Regions from separate parts of the Homo sapiens genome. Here regions 1, 3, 4 and 5 are each reported to be linked to region 2. Evidence: microRNA targets listed by miRTarBase, many of them from high-throughput screens and not tested one by one. Region 2 holds a microRNA gene; each other region holds the end of a gene's coding sequence.
What was found. The annotated mature microRNA hsa-miR-208b-5p reads AAGCUUUUUGCUCGAAUUAUGU and lies in region 2 at 1,064-1,085, shown strand. An mRNA with a match to its seed (bases 2 to 7 or 8) in the 3' UTR can be bound and repressed. Matches are read on the target gene's strand: a 7mer-m8 pairs with bases 2 to 8, a 7mer-A1 pairs with bases 2 to 7 and ends in A, and an 8mer does both.

Region 1: the mRNA of FAM199X is a reported target of hsa-miR-208b-5p. Seed matches in the 3' UTR shown: 7mer-m8 at 3,248-3,254.
Region 3: miRTarBase lists PKHD1 as a target of hsa-miR-208b-5p. Seed matches in the 3' UTR shown: 7mer-m8 at 2,843-2,849.
Region 4: the mRNA of SP8 is a reported target of hsa-miR-208b-5p. The part of its 3' UTR that is shown has no 7-base or 8-base seed match.
Region 5: the mRNA of PPT1 is a reported target of hsa-miR-208b-5p. Seed matches in the 3' UTR shown: 7mer-m8 at 1,159-1,165.

What each region holds. Positions count from the first base shown.
Region 1 is chrX:104,188,911-104,193,029 of GRCh38, forward strand. FAM199X (family with sequence similarity 199, X-linked) reads left to right here. Exons shown (of 6, transcript NM_207318.4): 6 at 698-4,119. The coding sequence ends at 868. Among named protein-coding and RNA genes, the nearest start is that of FAM199X, 25 kb to the left of the region's middle.
Region 2 is chr14:23,414,998-23,419,116 of GRCh38, reverse strand. MIR208B (microRNA 208b) reads left to right here and starts at 1,054; the gene lies at 1,054-1,130. MYH7 (myosin heavy chain 7) reads left to right here. Exons shown (of 40, transcript NM_000257.4): 30 at 711-907; 31 at 1,431-1,614; 32 at 1,799-1,964; 33 at 2,125-2,249; 34 at 2,805-3,113; 35 at 3,285-3,488; 36 at 3,611-3,736; 37 at 3,847-4,119. MHRT (myosin heavy chain associated RNA transcript) reads right to left here and starts at 3,667. Exons shown (of 6, transcript NR_126491.1): 1 at 3,616-3,667; 2 at 3,288-3,496; 3 at 2,820-3,116; 4 at 2,109-2,201; 5 at 1,744-1,905; 6 at 1,522-1,584. RefSeq lists an enhancer at 2,672-3,871.
Region 3 is chr6:51,615,392-51,619,509 of GRCh38, forward strand. It overlaps PKHD1 (PKHD1 ciliary IPT domain containing fibrocystin/polyductin), which reads right to left. Exons shown (of 67, transcript NM_138694.4): 67 at 1-4,118. The coding sequence ends at 3,690. Among named protein-coding and RNA genes, the nearest start is that of PKHD1, 470 kb to the right of the region's middle.
Region 4 is chr7:20,780,453-20,784,571 of GRCh38, forward strand. SP8 (Sp8 transcription factor) reads right to left here. Exons shown (of 2, transcript NM_182700.6): 2 at 1,827-4,119. The coding sequence ends at 3,838. Among named protein-coding and RNA genes, the nearest start is that of SP8, 4.4 kb to the right of the region's middle. RefSeq lists an enhancer at 2,812-3,472.
Region 5 is chr1:40,070,157-40,074,263 of GRCh38, reverse strand. PPT1 (palmitoyl-protein thioesterase 1) reads left to right here. Exons shown (of 9, transcript NM_000310.4): 9 at 81-1,552. The coding sequence ends at 203. CAP1 (cyclase associated actin cytoskeleton regulatory protein 1) reads right to left here. Exons shown (of 13, transcript NM_006367.4): 10 at 3,982-4,105; 11 at 3,752-3,834; 12 at 3,285-3,428; 13 at 1,616-2,814. The coding sequence ends at 2,731. Among named protein-coding and RNA genes, the nearest start is that of PPT1, 25 kb to the left of the region's middle. RefSeq lists an enhancer at 3,226-4,107.

The DNA of each region.
Region 1 (4,119 bases), not on the chromosome of region 2:
TAAAGATGATAAGAGAATCTCTCTAACTCTTTAGTGACCCAGTGGTGACTTGAAGATACACAATGATTCTTTCCCTGGTTCTTAGGGAAGTAGCAGAAACATAGCCAGTTTTGTTGCTAAGGAATTTCTCTAGATATGTGGTCATTCCTTTTTATTATCAGTTCACCGGTGACAAGGATGGGAGTATCCACTGAGTTTCTGATGGATTTTTAAGATGGTATTCGCCTACTACAAAAAAGGCATGATTTTTTTTTTACCTGCCATTGTAAGATTGCTAGTGTTTTTGGATGAAAGGCACCTGAGAATCATAAGTATTAGAGATTTGGGCAATGTTCTCCACAGGTGTATTCAGTATTGTCGCCTAGTATTAATTATGTGTTCATTATGCATTTGTACCAATGTACCTTAATGGAATTTAAAAAAGAAGTCTTTGAAGTGACTTTTTATCTATCACTAGCCAAAATGATCGTCTCAACTCTTCCTAATCAGAAGAGTCACTGGTCAAATACCACAAAATTGGAATCTTAATCATTTTTAAGCCTAAGCCAGTGGCTCACTTATTGGAACAAGGATCATACTACAGAAGGATTTGAACAGCTCTTAAAGTTAGAAAATAGAGAATTTGATCCACAAAACATTTTGGGGTGGATATGCCAAAAACTAAACCAAACTGATTTAGAAATTTTTATTTTGACAGAAGCGATCCAAGCAGCGGAAGTTACAGCAGAAGGCCTTCCGCAAGAGGCAGCTGAAGGAGCAGAGGCAGGCCCGGAAGGAGAGGCTCAGTGGGCTCTTCCTTAACGAAGAGGTGCTGTCCTTGAAAGTGACTGAGGAAGACCATGAAGCAGATGTTGATGTTTTGATGTAATAAGGGTGAATTTATCAACGTTCTTTGTGAGCATTAAAATACTCCATCCTTATGGGTTTACATGCATCTTGACCAAAATTTTGGTTAGGGCTGTGCTGATGTACCATTAATAATTTAAGCCAGTGGTTCTTGGCAGGTGATCCCAAGACCTGCAGCTTCAGCATCACTTGAGAAGTTGTTAGGAATGCATACTAGTGGGCCCCGCCCCCAGACATAGTGAATCAGAAACCAACAGGGAGGCGCCTAGCATTGTTTTTTTAACAAGTGCTGGGTTATTCTGATGCACAGTCTAGTTTAAGAACCACTACTTTGGGTAAACGTTTTGACTGTTTAAAGTTTATGGCGGTGAAGTGGGCGTCTTCAAAGACTAGTACTTACACAGTTTAGAAGATTTCAAGGTACTGCTGACAGTAGTTTATTATGTCAGTATACATACATGTGTAGAGATCATAATTTAGTTCCCTTCTTAATGTTACAATTTCTTAGTTTACTTTTCCTAAAGGGCCATAGCATAATTCTTGATTCCTGGTGGAAATCTTTTCTGAGGTGTGGGGGTGGGCAAGGTGTGGATTGCTGTTTACGATAGTGCCTTCATTAGTTTTAGTTCTGTCTGTTTTCATTCATTATTGACTCAAAGGTATTAGAACAGGCCCTTATCTTTTTCCTATTAGATTTATTTTTGTTTTTTACTTTATGTAAGTTCAGAATCCTTTTTTAAGTGATGACTACTGATGAAATAATGTTACTAGTAGCTGAATTTTAGACTTGATGCTATGTTGATTAATATTTAAATGGTGAAAGTAATTAGGCAAAATAAGCAATTCTGCTTTTCTGTTGCTTTCAGAATTTTTAGGCTGTAAAATTGTCTCAGGCAGGAAGTCAGTCTATATCTCTCTCAAGTTCTTATTGTAGGTCATTTTTTTTTCAGCACAGCTCTAATTTTTAAATATTTGGTATAACAGCTTCTGGCATGTGACCTAGTTAATGTTGAAAATTAACTGATGAAAACCCTTGTAGATCTGCTAAACTTCTCTATAAATTGCTAGAAATATACAGAGCAATGAGATATAGAAAACACCTTAGCTTGTTGGTTATTAATAGAGCTCTAATTTTAACTGTGAAATCATGGAGTTTCTTTAAATGTTTTCCTAGAGTGTTTGTTATCATGAACATTAGAAATAGCATTATTCCTTTTCTTCTACCACATGTCTTGAACATTCACATGGGTTAAAGAAGATGGAAACTGATACTACTGACAATCAAGCTGCTTTCTGACTTTCATAATTTTCTTTATATTGTGGATAGCATTTTGAAGGTGACCGTGATTCTGTAGGAAGAGCTGTAATCAATATTTTTCAAACTCTAAGAGTACAGAGGTTAGTAAGATTTCTTTTTTTTTTACTTTTTGTTACGTCAAGTAGCTTATTAAGAAAAAGATTCATGACTTAAATTCTTAATTCTCAGTTGATACAAAGGCTTATAATCATGTGTTTTAAAATTTTGATTTCATTTTCGTTCCTTGAAGGTTAAAGAATGGAAACTGGGGATAAAAATTAATACACTGCAGCTTTGCCAAGGTCTGTGATATGGTTGTAACCTTTTAAAGACTACTAAAGTCATAATTTGAAATTTTTACTAAAATAAAACATATGTGTCTATGGTTTTCAATTGGAGTAGTCTTTCTTACTTTCCCCCTTCCCCTCTTTGGTTCTCCTAACCAGCTTAGAGGACCCAAAGAGAGCTTAGGGATAGACACCAGAATACTCTGTGGAGGTGGAACAACTTAACCTCACTGTTTTCCCTTCCAAGTATAGGAAGAGCAAATAGAGCATAGTAACTGTATCTAAATTCTCTACCTGCTCTTAGCAAAAGCAAAATCCCACAGAATGATTGCCTGCTGTCTTTACCTATTCTTCAAGGAAAACAGGCCACTTTTGGAGACCATAGAGCACCATTTATCTGTCAAATACTTGGAAACTATTTACTTAACGGTCATCAGTAAAAAACCCTAAACAAGGTCATGATATAATTTAAGACCAATTCCCCTACTCTCCCAATAATCACATAGTCTTATTACTTTCAATTTAACTTGAGTCACTATTAAGCAAGTTTACCAAAGTGCCACAAAGTTGATTTTTAACGTTTGTAAAGGTTTGAATGTTTATAGAAGTGCATCATGAAATTTTGTGTAAATCCAGATGAACTGTCATTATAGTACTATAAATTAGAGATAGTCCATAAAGTTGGGTTGAAGGAGATTGAAAATATTTCCTTTGATTAAAAGAAAATAATTAACTAACTTGGGCTTGCTTGTGATTGAAGAGGGAGATTAGATAGTCCTCTGTCCCCCCAAAAAAGAAACTAGCAGAGAAAGACATAAAAAGCTCTTTGGTGTCTGTTCATGTGCTGTACATTTTTTCCGTTTTAATGTCTTGTGTAGATAATTCAAAGTTTGAACTATTTCTTTCTTGGAATAAGTAATAATTTATTCAATATGGTGTATCTCTGAGTTCAATTTAAAACAATCCAACTCAGTAATATTTATTTTTAAATACAAATCCTAACTAACCAATTAATTAATAAAAAGGCAAGACTTACTTGCTGTAGTATTGGTTCTCATCTGTAGAGAACTGACATTGGAGCAAATTTTAAGTCTCCCCTTTGAAAATAAGCCTTGTTAACTGAGGGCGTAATACATTTCCCACAGATTTATCCAGAAACATTTTATTAGAGATCTTATAGTAGTATCTCAGTTCCTACTACAGCTTTCTAAAGGATGAGACTTGCATTTAACAAAATGACATATATAATATTTTTCTATAGTTTTGCAACTGAATTAAAGGAAGGTGATGTATTATAATGTGTAGTGAGGTATAAAGGGCTAGTTCATTCTCTCCCAACAAGAACTTAGAATAAAATAACACTTTTTTTTCATGAGACTTACCTCATTTTTGTTAGGCTATGGCAGTTTTGTCCAGTTCCTCTGTCCCTTGAGTGAATTAGATATTGGTGAATTAATCTCAGAAACTGACCTATAAAATAATGACTCATTATAGATTGGGTGAACTTCTCATTTTATTTAGCTTTTAAAAGTGCTAAATCCTCTCATAAAGGAAAAATTATAGGAAACTATAGCGGTATCCAGATTCTGATGAGCTTTAAAAATTATAAAATATAGCAAATGTCTTCATATTTTAGCCAGAAATATTAGTACACAACCAATATAGAAGTCTTGTTTGTTTCTGGGTTCT
Region 2 (4,119 bases):
AAATCACTTCCCTTCCCAGCAATAAGGCTGGCTGTGGACCAACAGTTCTCCAAGAATTCTAAAAAGAAATCACAGCCCAAACCCTGCCACATGCCATCTACTCCCCAGGCTGAGGCCCTCTGCTTCTGCTGCATCCCTGGACGGGAGGCAGGGTGTGAGAAGGAGGAGAGAAAATGAACTAGGGAGGCACGAGATGGCCTTGCCCGGGCACGGCTAGGGGATGTAGGGACTGCACAAATGGGTCCTGGGATTTGCAGGGCCACCTGAAAACTGGAGAAAGAAATTCAACTGGAGCCTATTCCTAGCACTTTGCTGGACTCATGAAAAAGGAGAAAGAACATGATTTTTAAAAAACTCCAGGGTTCATACTAACCTGCCTCTTATAGCTCAGTGATCTTAGGTTAGGGAAGTCCCCTAACCTTTCTGAGCCTGTTTCCCTCTCCCCAGCCAGGTAAAATGGCGGTGATGATGACCATGTCTGGTGTGGGGAGGAGCTCAGGGCCAATGGCCATGAAGCTTTTCTTAAATAGTTCACTGCTGTATTGGCATTCTTTGTTATCAGCAAACAGTAAACCATGACAGGTCCACTGGGGGTTTGGACATAGATGAGGCCAAGGGATGATGTTGAGATTGGGGTGAGGAGAAGGGCAAGGGTGGGGTTGCTTTATGGAGAAAGCTGAACCCACCTCCTGGTGCCCACCCCTCCCCAGGCGAAGAACGCCCTGGCCCACGCACTGCAGTCGGCCCGGCATGACTGCGACCTGCTGCGGGAGCAGTACGAGGAGGAGACGGAGGCCAAGGCCGAGCTGCAGCGCGTCCTTTCCAAGGCCAACTCGGAGGTGGCCCAGTGGAGGACCAAGTATGAGACGGACGCCATTCAGCGGACTGAGGAGCTCGAGGAGGCCAAGTGAGTTCTGAGCAGCCTGACTTCTGGCTGAGGCCCCTTTGCAGGCAGGACTCAGCCCAGCCCCAGCCTCAGCAGATCCCACACAGGCGATGCTTAGCTAGTGTTTGACAACACAGGAGGACTCTGCCCCGGCCCCACCTCCTTCTCCTCTCAGGGAAGCTTTTTGCTCGAATTATGTTTCTGATCCGAATATAAGACGAACAAAAGGTTTGTCTGAGGGCAGAGTGCTTCCGTCTGGGGCAGGGCACTGTGGCAGGGAAAGGCAGTGGGGAGGGCTGCAGAAGCCCATACCTCCTCAATGTCCATAGCGCAGAGGCTGGGCCAGGGTCAGAGGGTGCCTGGGTCTCCACGCCCTGCTGGGATCCTCTGCCTGATGTTCTCGGCCCCTGGGACCTGTCCTCAGGCTTCTCCAGCTACACTTCTGAGGTTTCAAGGATTGTCTTTGAGAAGGTTCATGTTGTTTCCTCTTGTCCCCATCCACACCCTCCATCCTCCCCACCCTCTGCCACCCTCCCCTGGGCAGGAAGAAGCTGGCCCAGCGGCTGCAGGAAGCTGAGGAGGCCGTGGAGGCTGTTAATGCCAAGTGCTCCTCGCTGGAGAAGACCAAGCACCGGCTACAGAATGAGATCGAGGACTTGATGGTGGACGTAGAGCGCTCCAATGCTGCTGCTGCAGCCCTGGACAAGAAGCAGAGGAACTTCGACAAGGTGGGCCCTGGGTGGGGGCCGCAGCCAGCATGCAGGGCAAGGGGGCATGAGGGGTTCAGTGAGAGGCCAGAGCCATCCTCCTTGGAGGTGGGGGAGGAGGGCTGAGCCCAGGCAGGTCCTGAGACAGACCCTGGACATGGGGCTGAGGCTGGGGGGCTGAAGAGTGAGCCTTGTCCCCGGGCAGATCCTGGCCGAGTGGAAGCAGAAGTATGAGGAGTCGCAGTCGGAGCTGGAGTCCTCGCAGAAGGAGGCTCGCTCCCTCAGCACAGAGCTCTTCAAACTCAAGAACGCCTATGAGGAGTCCCTGGAACATCTGGAGACCTTCAAGCGGGAGAACAAAAACCTGCAGGGTGTGCTGGGGGCCCAAGAGGCTGGGGAGGGGCTGCACTGGCAGTGTTCCCATATGGTGCCACCCAAGGGCTCCAAGAGGCGTCTGGGCAAAGAGGCGTGTCCCTCCAACTCCACTGGACCTCAGCAGCCCTCAACCGAGTTACCGTGTTCCCCACACAGAGGAGATCTCCGACTTGACTGAGCAGTTGGGTTCCAGCGGAAAGACTATCCATGAGCTGGAGAAGGTCCGAAAGCAGCTGGAGGCCGAGAAGATGGAGCTGCAGTCAGCCCTGGAGGAGGCCGAGGTGTGTGTGTGTGCAGGGCACGGGGTGCAGGGAGCTGAGCTCCAGGCTTTTGGTCCCTGTTCTCATCCCCCGCTTTGTCCGTTTTGTTCACTGTCCCATCCCCAGAGCCTAGGACAGAGCCTGGCACATAGTAGGCATTCAGTGAAGATTTGTGGAGTGAATGAATGACCAGTCACTGAACTCTCTTCACATAAACATTTTACCCATTGCATCTTAGCTGAGCTTCCCATTTCCACATACCTCCCGGTTCCCACCTCTGCCTCCCTCTGTTTTCTTTTATACTCTATACCTGATTGCCTCTGTTTCCTTGGCAACACTTTTCTCTTCATTTTCCTCCTTGTCTTCATAGCTGGCTCTCCCCTGTGAGGGCCTGAATCACTTTCTCTTAGGCTTATTTTTATTTTCTCTTAGATTCTCTTTTCCTCCACCTTCTGCTTCTTTGAACCACTTACACCACTCTTGAAGTCACTTCGTATCCATGATTAGTGAGCAGGCCCCCACCCTGCCCTGTGCCCTGACTGTCTGCCTGCATCCCCTCCCCCAACCCCTTCCCAGGCCTCCCTGGAGCACGAGGAGGGCAAGATCCTCCGGGCCCAGCTGGAGTTCAACCAGATCAAGGCAGAGATCGAGCGGAAGCTGGCAGAGAAGGACGAGGAGATGGAACAGGCCAAGCGCAACCACCTGCGGGTGGTGGACTCGCTGCAGACCTCCCTGGACGCAGAGACACGCAGCCGCAACGAGGCCCTGAGGGTGAAGAAGAAGATGGAAGGAGACCTCAATGAGATGGAGATCCAGCTCAGCCACGCCAACCGCATGGCCGCCGAGGCCCAGAAGCAAGTCAAGAGCCTCCAGAGCTTGTTGAAGGTACTCACCCAGAGGGGACTGGCCTCCACGTGGCCTGGCGAAGCAGTAGTGTCTTGATACAGGCACCAGATTCCTCCTGCCCCTAGGTTACTGCAGGGACCTCTGACAGGTGCCTTTAGTGAAGGGAACCGAGGCTGGCTCCCTGCTCATGCCCACTCTCCTGATCCTCAGGACACCCAGATTCAGCTGGACGATGCAGTCCGTGCCAACGACGACCTGAAGGAGAACATCGCCATCGTGGAGCGGCGCAACAACCTGCTGCAGGCTGAGCTGGAGGAGTTGCGTGCCGTGGTGGAGCAGACAGAGCGGTCCCGGAAGCTGGCGGAGCAGGAGCTGATTGAGACTAGTGAGCGGGTGCAGCTGCTGCATTCCCAGGTGAGCAGCTCCCCTGCTCATTCCTGAAGGGAGCACAGGCTGGGGCTCAGCAAGCAAGGCTTGAGAGCTATGCATAGATGCTCAATGCTTTTCCTGCTCTGCCCAACCCTCCCCCAACCCAGAACACCAGCCTCATCAACCAGAAGAAGAAGATGGATGCTGACCTGTCCCAGCTCCAGACTGAAGTGGAGGAGGCAGTGCAGGAGTGCAGGAATGCTGAGGAGAAGGCCAAGAAGGCCATCACGGATGTAAGTCCCCCACTCCACCGACCCGATCCAGACCAGTGTCTCTCCGTGGGCTGGGCAGCAAGTGTGTGAGGACTTGACCAGACCATGTGCCACCTCTCTCCTGCACACAGGCCGCCATGATGGCAGAGGAGCTGAAGAAGGAGCAGGACACCAGCGCCCACCTGGAGCGCATGAAGAAGAACATGGAACAGACCATTAAGGACCTGCAGCACCGGCTGGACGAAGCCGAGCAGATCGCCCTCAAGGGCGGCAAGAAGCAGCTGCAGAAGCTGGAAGCGCGGGTGCGGGAGCTGGAGAATGAGCTGGAGGCCGAGCAGAAGCGCAACGCAGAGTCGGTGAAGGGCATGAGGAAGAGCGAGCGGCGCATCAAGGAGCTCACCTAC
Region 3 (4,118 bases), not on the chromosome of region 2:
AAATGTGACTTTTCTATCAAATATATCTGTAATTAGTCAAAGTGCTATAGTGTATGTTGAAATCAACAGTTCTATACTCAATAGTATTTAATTCCTTGTGCTTATAGTTTTTTCAAAATTGGCATAGACTATAAGTTCTGAAAGCAAAATATGGAATGCATGAATTTTAAATGACAGAATTAATTAAAATTCTTTACTGTTATTGACACGTACAATTTTATAGAAGCTTGGTTGAATAATATTTGCATATGATTTACATTTGATTTCCTCATACTCATTTTTGCATATAGTTTGCAGGCATTTCAATGTATAGTAATTTCATATATTTGGAGTAAGACTGATAGATGGAAGGGAGTCATTCAACTAAATTGTTGAAAGGGGAAGGCCCTGAGAGAGCTCAACTGTTCTTGGTCCTTGGTGGCCTCACTGGGCAGTAACAAGGGCAAGTCTATTGAAGGGCAAGTTCACCTTGATCAGATAAGCTGAGTCTCGCACTCTGGAAGAGACTTGAAGTTCTGTTGGTCAGGTACTTTCCCTGAACACAGTCCCTGCCCCCCAAAAAATGTCCCCCTCCCCAAACAAAAAGCATGGAGAAATGGTCAAAACAACCGTGGCTCCATATATACTTCTTTCTCAATTTTGAAATCTATAAATATTTATAGATGTTCTTTATTTGACAAATAAAAATTGTATATATTTATCATGTACAACTCGATAGTTTGAAATATGTATACATTGTGGAATGGATCAGTTGAACTAATTAACATATGTATCACCTCACACACTAGCATTTTTTGTGGTGAGAACACTTAAAATGTACTTTCAAACACTTTTGAACTCTCTAGAATTTTAGCTTGTCCAATCTCTTGAGAGAAATGAGTCCATCAATACAGAAAATCAGCAATGGGAGGCAAGAAGAGATTCTTTGAACTAACACAGGAAAAAAGCACATCTCAATATTTATTTAGATAAAGGGTGTAGATTGTCACTGCTGGGAAATATTTGCTGGGTTACCCATGTTAACGATCTGAATAAATTTAGAGTTGGCCTACAGTGGTGCTCAAATTGGCTCATCTCCAGACATGAATGAACATAGAGCTGCTCTCTTTGCTTTTGGTGTTTCCCTAATTCTCTCATTTTTTTTTTTTTTTAGGAGAAAGAGGAGTAGCTTAACTATGGGTTGAGGAATTTTAGCTAGATGCCAAAATTCCATGCCACATGCTAGAGCCTGGCAAGTTACTGAAGATGTTTATAGCTGCTATTTAGGCCCAAAGAGTCAATTCTGGCCTCAGGGATCACAGGCTTTTCTGGGATGGAATTAGTAAGATAATTATGGTTATTCCTACGCAGAGGGATAGGATAAAACATGCCTCCCAGAAAGACTGGTCTTGTGACACATAGAGGATAAATAAGAAGATAATAAAAATTGGAAGAAGGGTAAAGAAGGGGCAGAAATAACAGAGCTGGCAGCTAACTCTTTGTGAAGGGCGAAATAGAATGAAGAGTCATGACTGACTTCTAGATTTCTGGTCTGAGTGCAGTGATGTCATTCATTGAGTTGGAAAAAAACACAAGGAGAAGTAGGTTTTTGGGCTGTGTTAACTTCATAGTAACTATAGGATAACCTACTGGATATTCTCACTAGGCAGCTAAATGCATGGTATAGAGCTCAGGAAAAATACCTGTGGAAAAAAAACTTAAAAAGTGGTGAAAGAATCCGAGGAAATGAAAGAAAGCATGTGCAGGTAAACTGAGGCAGGGCAAGGACTAAGACTGCTACCATTTTATAAACCTCAAAAGCCTTCACTTCTGAAATGTTTTTTTCCAAAAAGCTTACGGCTCTTTGAGGATCCAATGAGTATACTAAAGTAGAGATTGCAAAGGCAAATGACTTCAAGACCGAGAATCTACAAAAAAAGATAAATAACTGGTTATAACAGGGACTAATTAAACTAGGGAAGGCATGTTCTGCCTAAGTCATTCGAGTTTTTTTTTGTTTTTCGTTTTTAATTCTGTTGGTGCCCAAGCAAAATACATCATCTACAAAGAGGACTTACTCAGCATGGCAGCCAGCTTGTGCCTCCAGAGTAAACGTCTATAAACCAACTTCTTGCAAATCATTCCCTGAACACAGATAGCCTGGATTGAAATCTCCTGGAGAGCACTGACCTTAACATCTACTTATATTTTCTTCCAAATCCAACACAGTGACCACAGAGAAGGCTACCTACCTCCTTTTAGGGACAGCCTGAAGATCTGCAATACTCACCAGATGCCTAAAGAAGAGGTTAAAACATTTCTGCCAATTCTTAGTAGGGTGAGACACACCTGCCCCTTGATGCCCTGCAGACATAACAGCTGTCTGCCAGTACTTCTCATAGAACTAATTCAGGGCATCATTATTTAGAATTCAGCAATGAAAGAGTGTGTTTCCTTTCTCTCTTCCAATGCAACTACACAACAACCCCTTAACATTGTAGAGATTGGAAAATCCTGGTTTTCAGGATTTTCAGGAAAATCTGAGAGCAATCTCTTTTTGGAAGCTCTCCACATTCCTGCGATCTTTTCTTTACATGCTTGGAGCATAAGGCCTTCTGGATCCAGAGCCAAGGACACAGTCAGGCTGTTTAAAGTATTCTTCAGTTTGAAAAGAAATGGGCCCCGTACAAATGTGTGAATTTGGTGAAATTGCCTTTAACAACCTTACCAAATGTATCAATACCAGGTGAGCCTTTGTTCTGATCTCCATTTAAACCCCCTGCACAGCCTAGAGCAGTTGCATATGACATAATCTCTCCTCTCCTTAGTATCACAGCTTTATGCATCATCTTCTCCAAAAAGCAGCTTTTTGATAAAGGACTTGGCCACTTGGCTTTCTCTGATCTCCCAATGTAGTTCTTTTCCAGTTGTAAATGTGACCCAGCTACTAACAGAGAGAATCACTGAAAAATAGAACAGTGGTCATACAAAATTTCCTTTCCCAAATTTGGCATTTTTACATCTTTGTCCTTAACTAAACTCTCAGCAAAGCCCATGAGAATATCAATTTTCATGTGTAAATCCTCATGAAGTGCAAATTTGATACGCTCACACTACTGTAGGTTCTCAATAATGATTGAATTTAAACCATGAAATAAAATCCACTTGTAAAAAGCCAGGAAGTTGCCTTGTGGTTGGAAGGTAAGCTCTGACAGATCAGGGAGCAGGGTGTTGAACTGTCCCTTCAAATGCTACTACAGGATAAAGAAATGCTTTTCTGTAACAGTGTGGAATTAAACTGTAGCTGACCAGACCTTTTCATGATCCCTTCTATAAAAGAAGCTCAAAGCATTGTGGGTGGTCAATCCAGAGAATGCTTAATAATAACCCCTGCTGGTATAAGTCAGTATTACACCATTATCAAGTTGTTAAAATCAGGCTTAAGTTAAAAACTGGTAAATAATTAACAAGTGCCATTATTTGCCTAGCATTGAACTAGGATCATGATAGCTGCAAAATATGTATGAGACATTTTTCAGTCTGTAAGCATTTATATGACTGTTTTCCATTTTAAAGTTGAAAAAGGGATTCAGAGTCCACATTCTCTCTTCTTAGTTGTCCCAGCAGGACAGTCCTCACTTCCCCAGCTTATTATCCAGAAATACTGGGAACATTCTGCCTTTCAGGCCAAATGCCCCCAACTTCCCTGATCACAGTTGCTCCTGAATAGTTTCCGGGTGTACTGAATGAAGGCAGAATGCCTCAGTGGCCCCGCAGGAGGCTTTCTTCTCTTGGGAAAGCCCCAAGCTGCCACTTTGCTTACTCAGCCGACTTTGCCCTGGCAACTGCTGCCTCTCTTGTCTGAAGTCTGGGCATAGCAGCAGCAGCTGATTTTGGCCTGCCAGCTGGTATCTGAGCAACTGCTCTTGGCCCTCCTTCCAGTTCCCAGTCTCTTGCAGGTACACCTGCTGAGCAGGAGCACCTGGAGCACAGATGTGCCCATGGGATGTGATGCCAGTAGTACCAGGAGCAGGCACAGCAGCCTCTTCCTCTCGGACAATGTGGCGGCTAACTTTCCTTCTGGACACTCCATTCATCAACTGGTGGGGGCACTGGTTCACCTTGCCCAGCATGACCTT
Region 4 (4,119 bases), not on the chromosome of region 2:
TGGATTGGCAGCCCTTTCCAGACTCTGGAGGGTGGGCTGATATATGCTGGCCTGACTTCTGGGTCAACAACTAGTTTAACTCTATCTTGATCTGCCAGACTGGAAGCTTGTCCCTTGGTTCAAAGTGAGACCTGGCCTTTGACTTCACTTGAGTGAGCCTCCAGCTACTGCCAGGAAGTGCTTTATCAGGGACAAAACAGGAACAAAAAAAAAAAAAAAATCACAATTTGGTACCTCATCTTCTGTTTTCCCAAAAGAACCCTGCCCACCCTGCAGAAAATTAAGCTAGAAATACTGTTCCATAACCACCAAAACAAACCAAGCAAAGCTAGAAGGGTGAGGAGCCAGAAGGAAGAAAGGGAAAGTTTGCACATCTGTACAGCAGAAAAAATGTCCCCCTTCAATCACCCCAAAGAAATCTTCTTCCAGACAATATTTCTCCTTGTCATAACCCACCTCTTAAATCAATGTTGATTCTGCATGTAATGCAACTGATATTATAAATGTACCAAGCAGCTTTCCTCTTACCTGCCACTACATTTAACTCCTTCAGAACCGCTCTTTCCGAATCCCTCAGCATTGCAACTTTCAATAAAAAAGAAACAACACTTAAACTGTGTTCTGCTTGTTATCCTAGGAAGAAAGTGACAGAAAGAAACTATTTTACTTTTAAAATCCATTATTTAGAACTATAGTATACCAAAGAATCAGAGTTAACTTGTTTGTCTAGAACCATAGAGACTGGAGGCCTCAAATACCTGCATAGACAGCAGGATTAAAGGTGTCACCTACTTGGACACGAGCTATATTATTCTAAAACATCTTTTATCCCTAATTGCTTTTTCCTCTCAATTTACAGTGCTCATAGCACTTTGTATTTTCACTTGCTTCTATGCATTATAATTACCATATATAGATTTCAATGGAAAATTTTTCAGTTCAAGATGTATACCAAGACTATACTTAGGGTGGGGAGATTGCAAACAGAAATAAAGAAGCTAAACTTGTAAGAATCCAAACACACTAACTTTTTATTCAATTTGATTCAAAATAATAATATTAATCTAATAGTGAAATAGTGATATAACATCAATCAACATTTAGAGTATTTTATGTTTCAAAGTATGGCTCAGGAACACCCATTGCTAAATGCACTTAGACATAACAAGACAGTATTTTTTATTGGCATCATTGACACCTATGAACAATAGCCTAGTAAATAGATTAAGGTTTAACCTTCCTTTTCTTTGGTGGCTGTTTAGAGACTTTAAAAGAACAGATAACTCATTTCAACAGGAATCTACTACTGATATTTACCTCTACATAATCTTTAGCTAAGACTTGGAATGCCAAAAACAAGCTTTTGTTAGCTTGACCTCCTCCACCTCCTAACAACAAAAGTTATCCCCAAACCCATGTTTTTATTTTAGATGTATTGATCTTCCAATGTAAGGCTTGGCCTTTTAAATACTAATGCAATCAATGGCCAACAACCTGACTCCTTCTGGAGACTGAGAAGGAAAGAGAATGGTGAAATTTCTTTGAATTGTGACTTAGTACAAATTTTAAGAGGTCAGTAAATCCTGATGCTATGAGCTAAATCTACTGGTAAATAATCAATTACATTCCTTAGACACTATAATCTTTATCTTGGTAAACAGAGAAAACACAGCTTTGCCAAATAGATCTTTCCATCTAACATCTTAAAGGTAATTATTTAAATATTACCACAAACAAGGATATATTTTGTTTAAATTAGACAATTAACTGAAGATAAAATGCACGTCCATAGTTTAAAAAGGGGAAAAAATACAAATTAACTGGCCTAGTCTTTTATCTGAGTTTATTATACCATTTAAAATATTACAAATAAATCAATTACATTTCATGCATTTAAAATGCAAATCTAAAATGCTCCAGAGAAAGGCTTTTCATTTCAATGTGAAATATCCAAATTATTTCAACATTACAATGAGCAATTAGTTTGCAGAATCTGCAAACATTTAAATGTAGTGTCAGAAGTATTTATTAACAGTTAACAATATTACCTTCAGGAAATACACAAAGGCCAAAGTTAGTCGAGTTTCACTTGGACAATTTATTTAATACATGGGTTTTGGCAGACCACTTATTATGAAATATAGGAGAACTCTCACTTTAACTATGCCTGAACTGCCAGCAAATGCAAATAAGTACATGCTCCATTAAATTAAATGTCATCCAACATTTATCAAATATTGTCTTAGTTACAGCTTGATACCTATCTAAATTCATATTCGAGCAAAACTAGGCCCCGAAAGTGCGTTTGTGGCTCTGCACCTCCAGAAGTGAGTTCAAAAAACCTGCAGCTCATCAGAACTGCAACAATAACTCTTAATATTTTCTTGTGACAAAAAAAAAAAATCAAGTTTACTTCAATATATTTTCAAATATTTACTGGAAGTAATGTACAAGAAAAATACTATACAAAATCGTCTCCTGGACAACTGCACCTCACACCCTTACACTGGCGGAGTTATATTTAATTGGTAACTAATCTAGAACGATTCTCCAGTTGTACAAACCATTAGGTTCAGATATATTTTACAAAGGTTCTTTTTTATTTTCCCTCTTTTGGTATTTAAACTACAGCCTCGTCTGAAATAAACGATAGCTTCTTCACTTGTTTGTAAGTTTAAATCACACACAAAAAAGTTTAACCCTACGATCTTCATGAATTGAGAGAATTTACGAAATTGGTACTATACAATTGACGGCCGGACTAACAAAAAAGATTGGGAGGTTATGTTTGGGAGTGGTGAAAAAACGAGGTAGAAAAGGACAAACATGGAGATAGTTAATCTGGTCTCACCGGAAAGGAGTATTTTTGCATAAGAAAAAAGCACCTACCCTCACCCCCGCCCCCACCCCGTAAGTTAAGTTAATGCAGTCAAAGTAACTTTGGGATCAATATTAGCAGTTTCGAGAGAAAGATTGCTCCCCGTTAGAGGAAAAAACTATTATAGAAGGGAAACCAAATGGAAGGTTGCTATTTTCCCCCTAGTTTTTTTAAAAATAAAATATATGCTATAAAGATGAAAGAAAGCTGCTGCAGCGATTCGACAAGACTGCCCTTTGCTGAAACTTGCATCGGTTCCACCTCAGGGAACAAAGAAAAAGAGGCAGACTGACATTGGGAGATCTAAACTCTACAAACTCTGGGTCTCGGGCTGCCAAAAGTCACCCCCACCAAGCCCCGACAGCCTGAGTAGGACGTCCGGCGATGCCCAGGGGCCTGGCAGGGTGCTCCGAAGCCGAGGTGCTCAGTACAGCGGCTCTGGAACCAAGCAGCCGTCTGCCCGGGCGGCGCTGTTCTGCCCAGGCCTCCAGCCTCTCCCTCTCCACCGCTCCGCTCAGGCTTGTCAGCCGAGCCGCTCCTGCCCGCGCGAGGCCCGCTGTCTACCAGGCACTGGATTAGTCCAGCTCTACCTCCAGTGGCCGTTCCCTCTAAAAGTTACGCCCTTCACAACCTGGGGGGTGGAGGAGGGGAGGACAAGGAAGAGAGAACGAGAAATAAAGGCCCGACGAGGCGCGGGTTCCGGCTGCAACGGGTTCAGGCAGCGTTACCCGTGGAAAGGGAAAGCCAGGGCCCGGGACAGCGATGCGTGTTACTTACTTGTCCATATCCCCTTTACAAAGTTAAGTCACAGAAGGAAGAAGGAAGAGGGGCAGAAACAGAAAGAGACAGAGAGCGAGTCGGATGCAATAGGGAAAGGCTGGAGTTGAAGTCCGGACAGACAGGGCCCAAGAGGACTTGGTGGGAGGAGGTCGGGGAGAGGGGCGGGCGCAGGGTGGGCGTCACTCTAGGCCGTTGCGGTGCCCGGGCTCGGGGGGCTGCAGCAGCTCTGGGGAGTGGCAGGGCGGGCTGCCCGCGGCGCTGTGCTCGCTGTCGGTGTCGCTGCCCTTCTTGCCGCCGCTGCCCGAGCCCGCCGAGCCGCCGCCGCCGCCGCCGCCACTGTGCGTCTTCACGTGCTTGCTGAGGTGGTCGCTGCGCATGAAGCGCTTGTTGCAAACTGGACAGGCGAAGCGCTTCTCGCCGGTGTGGGTCCGCAGGTGCCGCTGCAGCTCGTCGGAGCGCGT
Region 5 (4,107 bases), not on the chromosome of region 2:
TATCTCAAGTTAACGTACTTACCATTTTACTCCAAAACTTCATTAAGCTTTTTAATTAATTATGGCCTTTCCTTCTGCAGGACCGCCTGGGGCTAAAGGAAATGGACAATGCAGGACAGCTAGTGTTTCTGGCTACAGAAGGGGACCATCTTCAGTTGTCTGAAGAATGGTTTTATGCCCACATCATACCATTCCTTGGATGAAACCCGTATAGTTCACAATAGAGCTCAGGGAGCCCCTAACTCTTCCAAACCACATGGGAGACAGTTTCCTTCATGCCCAAGCCTGAGCTCAGATCCAGCTTGCAACTAATCCTTCTATCATCTAACATGCCCTACTTGGAAAGATCTAAGATCTGAATCTTATCCTTTGCCATCTTCTGTTACCATATGGTGTTGAATGCAAGTTTAATTACCATGGAGATTGTTTTACAAACTTTTGATGTGGTCAAGTTCAGTTTTAGAAAAGGGAGTCTGTTCCAGATCAGTGCCAGAACTGTGCCCAGGCCCAAAGGAGACAACTAACTAAAGTAGTGAGATAGATTCTAAGGGCAAACATTTTTCCAAGTCTTGCCATATTTCAAGCAAAGAGGTGCCCAGGCCTGAGGTACTCACATAAATGCTTTGTTTTGCTGGTGATTTAACCAGTGCTTGGAAAAATCTTGCTTGGCTATTTCTGCATCATTTCTTAAGGCTGCCTTCCTCTCTCAGTACGTTGCCCTCTGTGCTATCATCTTATCATCAATTATTAGACAAATCCCACTGGCCTACAGTCTTGCTTCTGCAGCACCCACTTTGTCTCCTCAGGTAGTGATGAATTAGTTGCTGTCACAAAAGGAGGGAAGTAGCACCCAAATTAAGTTGCTTAAGAGAGGAAATGTACATCTTGTATAACTTAGGGAGCGAAGAAAATGTAGGCGCGAAAGTGAAAAGTGAGGCAGCTAGTTCTTCCTATTCCATTCTCGACCAACCTGCCCTTTCTTAATATGACTAGTGGTCTTGATGCTAGAGTCAACTTACTCTGTTGCTGGCTTTAGCAGAGAATAGGAGGAACCATATGAAAAAGATCAGGCTTTCTGACTTCCATCCCCAAAACACATTTACCAGCATACTCCAAACTGTTTCTGATGTGTTCCATGAGAAAAGGATTGTTTGCTCAAAAAGCTTGGAAAATACTACACACTCCCTTTCTCCTTCTGGAGATCAACCCACATTAGAGTGTCTAAGGACTCCTGAGAATTCCTGTTACAGTAAACAAAACTAACGTAATCTACCATTTCCTACACTATTTGAGCATGGAAATCATAGTCCCCACTCTGTGAAAACTTAACGCTTTTTGGAAGACATTTCTGTAGCATGTCAGTTTGGAGAAATGATGAGCTACGCCTTGATGAAAGAACCGTGTTGGTGCTGCTAAGTTTAGCCATTATGGTTTTTCCTTTCTCTCTCTTAAGCCTTATTCTTCAACTAAAAGATGAGGATTAAGAGCAAGAAGTTGGGGGGGATGTGAAAATAATTTTATGAGGTTGTCTAAAATAAAGAGTAGTTTCTTATCCTTGGTGTTTTCAGTATTTTTTGCATTTCTGTACAGCCAATATCACAGGTAAACAACTAAGCAAGTTTGGTATTAACTTTATTCTATTTTCTGTATAACTTTAAGTACATAAAGGTTTATTTCCACAGGCCTCAGGAAATGGGTAGAAATCACAGGACAATCTCTCTTCCCACCAAAAAAAAGTTGCATATTTTGGTAAGTGTTTGTCCTAGAGGGAAAAACAACTGAAATTTACATTAGCAGTGCTGTGCAAGATTCTTACATAATTCAAGACCTAAAACCAGCCTGCAGTGGAGGTTTCAGTCCTCTGTTCAGGTGCTTAGACAGAAGCCATAAGCTGATGAGCATGACAGGGAAAAGGAGGCAGTGAAGACAGGTGACAGGCACCTGGCAGGGAAGAAGGATTCAGGAATGCCAGACTCCTTGAAATCATGTGGGTTTTTTTTTTTTTTTTTTTCCTTTTAAAGTCATCTCTATAGGAAGGTGCTGGGCAGGGATCCCAGAGAAAGAAAGGGTCCAAGACTCCATTAACTGCCCTGGATGAAGGGCACTGCTACAGCAGCTAGTACCAGAGACTCTCCTATCTCACGGTTGAGGCAGACCCAGGATAGAATAGAGAATAAAAGGAATGCTTATAGGAAACAATTTTGTATGGAATGCTAGATGGCCAAGCCTCAGCCTTTGGTCCAGTGCAACCCTTGCCTCGCTTGTCAACAGTGAAAAATTAGTTTGGTTAGAAGAACCATCTGGAAACACACCAGCTTCTGCTACCTTCATGCTCATTGTTAAAAAAAGATTAACCAGTGTGAACATTCTGATCTGTTAATTCCAGGGACTGTTTTCTTTCCAATGGACTGTTTGTTGGTAGAATAACCCCCAAAAGCTCAAAGCTAAAATGCATCATCAGTCCTAGTCGGCAGTTCCTTAAGAATGGACTGGCGGCGTGGTTGAGCTGATATGGAAAAGCTGCACCTTCCTGCAGAAGATCAACTGACCTGCTATCCCACCCCAAATTTCAGCCTGAGGTATATTTCAGTGAAGGCAGGTAGCTGTGCTTCTCAGAGCAGAGAAGCAGTTTTAAGAGCAAAAAGGTAGAGGAAATCTAGAAAAGAACCGTCTTGATACAGATTTATCCCATGGTGTGAAGGGAGGGCAAAGAACCCAGTGGCACTTCGCTTATCCAGCAATTTCTGTCACTGTGGTGACCAACTTCTGCCCGTTCCATAGGGTCTTGAACTGCTCAGGAACTGGGAATTCATTCTGCAAATAAAGAAGAGACAGCAGGTTTAAATCTGAGCTAAAGAACAGCTGGGGCTAAATCTCACACATTTCTCCCAATGCTTGCTTCCACTTAACCCCAGGAGCACGGTACAATGTAGCAAGAGACAAACCCACAGAGCCATGCTATGTTCTAGTGTTCAGCGATCTTGGACAGACTATTAAGTCTATGGGGTGTAAATAACAGTACATATGGCTTTATAGCACCAGCCTGACAAGGTGCCATGGCTCATCCCCATTATTTTTTGCTACCTTGAGCTCCACTTAGGCAGAAAGCACCTACCTTTGGGGCTCCACTACATGGGACTACCTCATTTCTGTGTACTTTTGGTGTGCATTATTGGGTTTTTACCTGCTCAGTGCAGAATGTTCATAAAATAGCTTTCTTCAATGCCAGAAATCTTCAGTCCCTTCTGTTTTTAACATCATACTAAAGAGATCAAGAAACTTACAAAGTCACCGCCTTCTGTAGGAATGAGGACATTCATCTCGGAAGATTTGGCACTGACTATTTCACAATCCAGGGAATTCTTGCTCAGGTAAGCATGGCAGCCATCTGTTTTGTTGATGGATATGGTTGGCACTTTACCCATTACCTGCAGAGTAAACAAAGAGAACTGAGTCCCAGTGGTTGGGAAGGACAACAGTAAGTCGCAGGAAAAGGTTTCCTGTTTCACGTGACTCAGCAACTACATGAAAAGCTCACAGATGCGCAAGACACTGGATACTCGGGTGGGTTGGGATGGGTCCTGAAAAGAACTTGCTTGAAGAGCCAACCCTTCTTCTGCCACGTCCAAAGCAGCTCAGCTTACAGACTTTGTAGAATCAGATTCCCACCAAAGCAACATCTGTGGGTCTACCATGTCTCTTTGAATTAATTCCTCAGGGACAAAAAGAAGGAGCCAAAATATCGAGTTACCTGAACTTTGACATCCTTACTGTTGATTATCTCCACAATGCCCACCACGTCATCGAATACCAGGCCAAGTTTCTTACAGTTATCTAGGAGAAGAAAGGGAGTGTGTCAACGTGTAACTTTAAAGGAAAGTAATATACATTTAGGAATCTTTAAGGATAGGGTAGGTAAAATGGTATTAGCCTTCTCGGGCTCTGGGACGGGGCTTGCGTGGGACAGCGACAAAGACTCACCTACTGTAATGGAGTTAATTTTGCCCTTGATTTGCAATGTCGTGTTGACACACTTGTATATGTAAGCCACCTGTTTCAGCTCTGTGTCCTCAATCACCAGGTTGGAAACATTTTCCTGATTTTCCT